Homo sapiens: one gene and its partner. The gene in region 1 interacts genetically with each later gene. Each region holds a gene or a part of one and is shown on either strand. Other genes may lie near its edges. The genes, in order: MYBL2 and CREBBP.

Region 1 (3,810 bases):
CCAAAGTGGAAGCCTCTGTGTCCAGAAGCCTTTTGGTTTGTGTTGTGATTTATTGGGTAAAGGAGGGAAAACCTGTAGTGACTCACGGGCTTGTTCTAGAAGCTGAGTGAGTAACTTTGGGAAGACCGAATCCCCTTAGCTCAGCTTCCTTGGTATGAAAGGGAAAGTAATGCTTCCCTAGCAGAATTGTGGGGATTGGAAATAACTTTTGTGAGCTGCCCCAAGGAGGCATCAATGATGAGTGACATCCCATTCACTGCTCTATATTTCGTTCTATAAAAATATCTGCAGGCTGGGTACTGTGGTTCATGTCTGTAATCCCAGCACTTTGGGAGGCTGAGGTGAGAGGATCACGTGAGCCCAGGAATTTGAGACCAGCCTGGGTAACACAGTGAAACACAGTCTCTATAAAAAATATTTTAAAAAATTAGCTGAAGCCGGGTGCAGTGGCTCACACCTGTCATCCCAGCACTTTTGGAGGCCAAGGTGGTCAGATCACCTGAGGTCAGGAGTTCGAGACCAGCCTGGCCAATATGGGTGTGGTGGCACACGCCTGTAGTCCCAGCTACTCAGGAGGCTGAGGCAGGAGAATTGCTTGAACCCGGAAGGCGGAGGTTGCAGTGAGCCGAGGTTGCACCACTGCACTACAGCCTGGGCGACAGAGCAAGTCTCTGTCTCAAAAAAAAGTAAAAAATAAAAAATTAGCCGAGAATGGTGGTACATGTCTGTAGTCCCAACTACTCGGGAGGCTGAGGCGGGAGGATCACTTGAACCCAGGAGTTCAAGCCTGCAGTGAGCTGTGATTGTGCTACTGTACTCCAGCGTAGGCAACAGAGTGAAACCCTGTCTCTTTAAAGAAAAGAAGAATCTATGAAAATATAGATGTATAGTCATAGAAAACTTTGAGGAAATGCATGAAATATTAATGATTGGTCCTGGGCTGTGGGATCATACTTGACACTTAAATATTTCCCGTAATGAATGAGTCCTCTTGTATTAAGAGCATAGTAATTGCAATTCCTAACCTCCCTCCCTGGACAGGACCCTGATGCTTGGTGTGACCTGAGTAAATTTGACCTCCCTGAGGAACCATCTGCAGAGGACAGTATCAACAACAGCCTAGTGCAGCTGCAAGCGTCACATCAGCAGCAAGTCCTGCCACCCCGCCAGCCTTCCGCCCTGGTGCCCAGTGTGACCGAGTACCGCCTGGATGGCCACACCATCTCAGACCTGAGCCGGAGCAGCCGGGGCGAGCTGATCCCCATCTCCCCCAGCACTGAAGTCGGGGGCTCTGGCATTGGCACACCGCCCTCTGTGCTCAAGCGGCAGAGGAAGAGGCGTGTGGCTCTGTCCCCTGTCACTGAGAATAGCACCAGTCTGTCCTTCCTGGATTCCTGTAACAGCCTCACGCCCAAGAGCACACCTGTTAAGACCCTGCCCTTCTCGCCCTCCCAGGTGCGTGGACCCCACTCTGGCTGCTTATTGGGTCGGTACAGACACCTAGTGTTCAGTGCTGGGGCAAGGGTGAGCAAAACGAGACCTGGCTCTGCCCTCATGCAGCTTATGCTCTGGTAGGAAGACCAGGTAACTAAAAAAGACTCAGAAAATGTGATAATCAGGATGAAAGAGAAGGCTTATGGTGCTGCATATGTGTATCTAGTCTGGGCAAGTCCAGGAAGACTGCCAGGAGGAGAAGGAGGATGCTGGTAACTGGGTAATGAAGGAGAGGAAGAGAACTGTCGTGTTTGTTCAGTCCACGTATGGAACCTATTTCACAGCAGACTTACCAGCACTGGGGAGCAAAGATGAAGATGATGGGTTGTCTCCAGCACTGGCTGGCCCTGCCTGGTCCTGGGAAGACCTGGGATAGCCAGTGCTGGGGATGGGCTTGTAATGAATTAACCAGAATAGAGTGTGGGAAGTGCCATGTGATAGCAATTGCGAAGTCACTGAGAACTCACTGTTCTGGGTGTTGCCCCTGGGTGCTCTGTTAGTAACACACAGAGCCTCGGGAGCCGGGATGGGTGCCAGGGTCTCTCTGAGATAGAGGTCATGGGGGGCACCTGGCCTTCCTGCAGAGAGGTGTCTGGGCTGGGTCTCCTTGAGCACCTTGACCAAAGGCACAGAAAAGGAAGGACAGAGTGGATGTGTGGAGTGGTGGGGGGTGGCGCAGGGCCTTGGTGGGCCTAGGTATAACTTAGGGCTTTGGCTCTCATTAGGTTTGTTCTTCCTGTGAGGCTGTGGGAGAGAGCGAGGCCCTGAGGTGGCCTGGTGCAGGAGGCCACCCTGTCATCACGGGTCAGGATGGCTAGTGGCATTTTGAGAGAGACCCTGTGTCGGTTTGCTCCGGCTGCTTAACAGAGTACCACAGGCTCGGTGGATTTGACAAGAAATTCAGCAGTGTTGGTTTCTACTGAGGCCTCTCTCCTTGGCTTGTAGATGCTGGCGGCTCCTGTGTCTTCACGTGGTCACCTGTGTCCTAATCTATTATTTTTTCTTGTAAAACCTCTTATTTTATAATGTTATAAGGACACCCGTTATTGGATTAGGGCCCACTCTAATGACTTTATTTTTTGAGAGTCGCTCTGTTGCCCAGGCTGGAGGCTGGAGGCTGGAGTGCAGTGGCATGATCACAGCTCACTGCAATCTCCACCTTCCAGGTTCAAGGAATTTTCCTGCCTCAGGCTCCTGAGCAGCTGAGATTATAGGCATGAGCCACCATGCCCGGCTATTTTTTTTGTATTTTTAGTAGAGACAGGGTTTCTCCAGGTTGGCCAGACTGGTCTCGAACTCTTGACCTCAAGTGATCCACCTGCCTCGGCCTCCCAAAGTGCTGGGATTACAGGCGTGAGCCACCGCGCCTGGCCTAACTAACCACTTTAAAGGCCCTATCTCCAAGTATTAATACAGTCCCATTCTGAGGTGCTGAGAGTTGGGACTTCAGGATGTAAATTTGGGGGAGACACAGGTCAGCCTGTAACATGCCGCAAGTGAGGGCTGCTGGCTGGAGAAGGAAGGCAGCGGGTCCCTCAGCTACTATTTGGGAAGCTCAGGATGATGGAGCGTGGTCGCTCTACTCCAGAGACCCCATTTAGGGTGGTGACCCTGAGGGTTGCAGATGGCTCTCTATTATAGCACCTTCAGGGCAGGGAGGGAAGAGAGCGGGGTGCTTCAAAGGATGGATGTTGGCTTAGATCTAGATTTCATTCTCACTTCTAGCACTCAGTGCAAGACTCAAAACCTCTCTAAGCGTTGGTTTTCTTATCTGTAAAAGGGGGATAGTAATAGTGCCTATGTCTCAGGATTTGTGGTAACTAATTGAAATTATTTGTGTGAAGTGCTTAGCACTGGCAAGAGAAGGTGCCCTCTAAATGATAACCCCACCGCCACCAGCACACTACAACTGTCACATGCCTTTTGCCTTCACAGGTCAGTTCAGAGCTAGTTTTATTTCTTCTGAGAAGGAGCCACTCTCCCACAGTTGGCTTCCTGTGCCTTAACTGCGTCGTCAGCACTCGAGTAGAGATGGCAAAAGCTAGGATTAGGGTGACGGAAGCCCAGAGGTCTGTGTGAACCTGCTTGGTGGGCTCCTGGCATCGATCTGTCCCAGTCCTTGTTCTCGGGTGTCTGATGGGTCAAGAGGGGACCTCAGTATCAGAGCAGACGTTTTGGGGGAGAGGCTCAAGGATCTCTCCCCATGATCCCCTGAGGTCTCAGGGATACTCATGCAGGTCATCATTTTGTCTTGTTCCCTCTCTCTTCTTTGGCAGTTTCTGAACTTCTGGAACAAACAGGACACATTGGAGCTGG
Region 2 (3,810 bases), on another chromosome or scaffold:
GGAAAGCGGAAGAAGTGTGTGAAGGTGGGGAGGGAAGAAAGGCCCTCGCTCTGCTGAGGACCCGCTCTGCCCCGCTACAGACACCACAGCAAGTGAGGAGGCTCCGGGTTGGCAGGTGATGGTGACTGTCCTGGGAGGGGGATGGTGGGATCTGTCACCTGCCTGCCCTGCACAGCCTGACTCGGCCCATGCAAGGGACACCCACGTCATTTCACAGGGGGGTCAAAATTCCTAGAGGGGAGTGAGGGAGCATGACCGGGGGGTCCTTCAGGAACAAGTGGCCAGAGGGGCCCAAGCTGCCAACAGGACAGCGGGTGTTTCCAGCCATTTAGCAAGACTAGAACTGGGCACAGACAGGCCAGACTTCCCAGCAGAGCCTCCCTCTGGCCGTCCCCAGGGTCAGGCCTGTGGCTGTGGCTACACAGAGCAGGTTTAGGAAACACACACACAGCAACGCCTTCTGCCTTGTGACGCTGTCCTAGTTCTGGAGGAGTCAGTGCAGCCACCATCAGGTACAGACACCAACCCGGGCACCCATGCAAAGGGACAGGATGCTTCGTCAGACCCCAGGCCGGCTGTGGGGGTGGGGGTGGGGGCAGGGCCTACCTCGCACACAGTGCAGTGCCAGCGCGTCTCCACGTGGTGCTTGCACTCGTTGCAGGTGTAGACAAAGCGGTCCTGGCCCTGGGTGTGCAGCTCCACCAGCATGCAGAGCGTGGACCACTTGGAGCGGCGCAAGGAGGAGAACTCCCAGTGCTTGTCTCTGGCGAGGGTGAGGAAGGCGTCGCGCCCATCCATGAGGTCACAGCTGAGCAGGGGGTCGGGGTCGACGATGGGGGGCAGGGTGTTGATGACAGGCCCAGCGTGCAGGTGGATCACGAAGAAGACCTGCAGGAGAGGAGGGGCTTTAGTCCCACACAAGGGACATGGCACCTCCAGTGGTGAGCTCAGGGCAGGCGCAGCCACCCAGCCTGCAGAATAGGCAGGTGGCTGAGCCTGATGGCCCTGATGCCTTGGGATGGAACAAAATTGGTGACACGTTGCATGATGTCACCCAACTGGTCCACTTGGTTTCCTGGGGGCCACTTCCCTCCCACCACAGACCTGCACACGGGCCCACGCCCGCCAGCTGCGAGTCTTTCCCTCCTCCCGGCCAGAGGCACGGCTGCAGCACCGCAGCCCACGCCTACCTCCTTGTGCTTCTCCATGGTGGCATACAGCTTCTGGGACAGGTCATTGGACACGTTGGGCATGCTGGGCTTCTTCTTGTTGGCGCGGCTGATGCTGCTTTTGTTCTTGTTGGTTTTCTTGTTGTTCTTCTTCTTGGCATTCTTGCTGTCGCCCTGACTGCCCTGCAACAACACGCAAGGCTGTGAGACCAGGCAAGTGCCCCTCCACACTTGGCACGGACGCCCAGCTCCCAGGCCGTGGGCATCAGGAAGCTCAGGCCAAAGTAGGTCACCACCAGGCAGACCCCATACGTGAACGGCTACAGGTGGCTGTAGGTGCTGCAGCCTTCGGGACAGAGCAGGGCCTGTCCTCGGCCAGGCTGGTGTCATTATCAGCTTTATGCCACGCTGCCTCTAAAGGGGAAAAGAGACCCAGAGTGCGAGTTCAGAAATTAACAAATGAGGGCAGTGGGGGCTGTTTCCACTGTGCCACAACCAGATGCGGAAGATTCCACGTCACAACTGTGGTCAGCAGCTGTCTGCCTTGAGGAAGGCTCTACACACCCGAGAAAGCATGAGAGCTTCCAGGAGACAGGAAAGCTGCTGATGGGAAAAGCAGCTGCCCCATCAAGAGCAGGGACTCTGAGGCCCCTGCGGGGTCCACTCAAGGCCCACGGAGAGCAGGCTGGCTCCCTGCTGGGGCCATCAGTGCTGCGCCTGACTGGCTGAAGGTGGGCTTGCTCTCAGCCCACAGGCTCCTCCTCTGGAAAGAACGCAGGATTACCACTCACTTACACTTTAACAGAGAGCTTTATTTTTTTTGAGAGACGGAGTTTTGCTCTTGTTGCCAGGCTGGAGTGCAGTGGTGTCATCTTGGGTTCAAGTGATTCTCCTGCCTCAGCCTCCTGGGTAGCTGGGATTATAGGCACCCGCCACCATGCCCGGCTACCTATCATTTTTTTTGAGACAGAGTCTCGCTCTTGTCACCCAAGCTGAAGTGCAATAACGCGATCTCGGCTCACTGCAACCTCTGCCTCCAAGGTTCAAGCGATTCTCCTGCCTGAACCTCCCTAGTAGCTGAGATTATAGGTGCTGCCACCACACCCAGCTAATTTTTGTATTTTTAGTAGAGATGGGGTTTCACCATGTTGGTCAGGCTGGCCTTGAACTCCGGACCTCGGGTGATCCGCCCGCCTGAGCCTCCCAAAGTGCTGAGATTACAGGCATGAGCCACCGTGCCCAGCCAGAGAGTTTCATTTTTAACAAGATGAGAGAGACTCTTGGTGTTCAAAGAGAGGGGTCAGTCCAGAGAGAATTCAACAATCCAGCCGGGCGGGGTGGCTCACACCTGTAATCCCAGCACTTTGGAAGGCCAAGGCAGGCGGATCTCGAGGTCAGGAAATCAAGACCAACCTGGCTAACACGGTGAAACTCCGTCTCTACTAAAAACACAAAAAATTAGCCAGGCGTGGTGGCGGGTGCCTGCAGTCCCACCTACTCGGGAGGCTGAGGCAGGAGAATGGTGTGAACCCGGGAGGCGGAGCTTGCAGTGAGCTGAGATGGCGCCACTGCACTCCAGCCTGGGCGACAGAGCGAGACTCCATCTCAAAAAAAAAAAAAAAAAATTCCCACCCCACCGACAAGCAGCCCGAGGAGCCCAAATATCACGTGGGTCCTCCGCAGGATTCAGAGACAGAAAAGGGACGTCAGGGGAAAACTGAGGAAATTGGAACGAAGTGTAGACTTAACAATAATGCATCAACATCAACAAATGGCTCACCGTGGCAGCAAATGTGCCACACTAAGGTAAGACATTAGTAACAGGAGAAACTGCGTGCTGCAATATACTGGAACTCTGTGCTCAATTTTTGTGTCAGCCTTAAAACAAAGGAAGCCTATTTTTTTTGAGATGGAGTCTCGCTCTGTCACCAGGCTGGAGTGCAGTGGCACAATCTTGGCTCACTGCAATCTGTGCCTCCCGGGTTCAAGTGATTCTCCTGCCTCAGCCTCCCAAGTAGCTGGGACTACAGGCGTGCGCCACCACACCTGGCTAATTTTTGTATTTTTAGTAGAGACGGGGTTTCACCATGTTGGCCAAGCTGGTCTCAAACTCCTGACCTCAAGTGATCCACCTGCCTTGGCCTCTCAAAGTGCTGGGATTACAGGCGTGAGCCACCACGCCCGGCCTGGAAGTCTATTTTTACAAAATTATAAAATAAATATGTTCATGAAATTAAGAAAATATAGACAAGTAATTTTAAAAAGTTTTGTTTTTCTGGTCTTCCCGAGCAGCAGTGTTCTGTGTTCTGGAGCTTTCCCTGGGCACATTTGTCTCCGTGTTTGCGACATTCCTCACGAAGCTGGGACTGCACACAGGGAGCTGGTTCCGTTTCTCGCCCCACCTGACACTATCGCGAGCCTTTCCCCATTTCCCAGAATTGACAGCATGATGCAGAGCAGAGCTAATAGCAAAGCAGTGCTCCACCCCACGCACCAGCCCTCACTAAGGCTGACCCCCAGAGCGAGCTCCTGGGGTGTTGCTGACGAAGGCATGTCCCTGCCCATTGTTGTCCATGAACCAAACACACAAGGGACAGCAGGTCTACATGCCGACACCTCAGCATCCCGCCTCCTAACACAT

The links.
Region 2: of MYBL2 (region 1) and CREBBP, changing one enhances a phenotype caused by changing the other (phenotypic enhancement), as found in Homo sapiens cells (one study listed by BioGRID).

The regions. Positions count from the first base shown.
Region 1 is NC_000020.11:43,701,449-43,705,258, forward strand, and holds part of MYBL2 (myb-related protein B), read left to right. Parts: intron 1-1,041; coding exon 1,042-1,455; intron 1,456-3,770; coding exon 3,771-3,810. UniProt on the Homo sapiens protein: Transcription factor involved in the regulation of cell survival, proliferation, and differentiation. Transactivates the expression of the CLU gene.
Region 2 is NC_000016.10:3,730,586-3,734,395, forward strand, and holds part of CREBBP (CREB-binding protein), read right to left. Parts: intron 1,353-3,810; coding exon 1,191-1,352; intron 889-1,190; coding exon 607-888; intron 1-606. UniProt on the Homo sapiens protein: Acetylates histones, giving a specific tag for transcriptional activation. Mediates acetylation of histone H3 at 'Lys-18' and 'Lys-27' (H3K18ac and H3K27ac, respectively).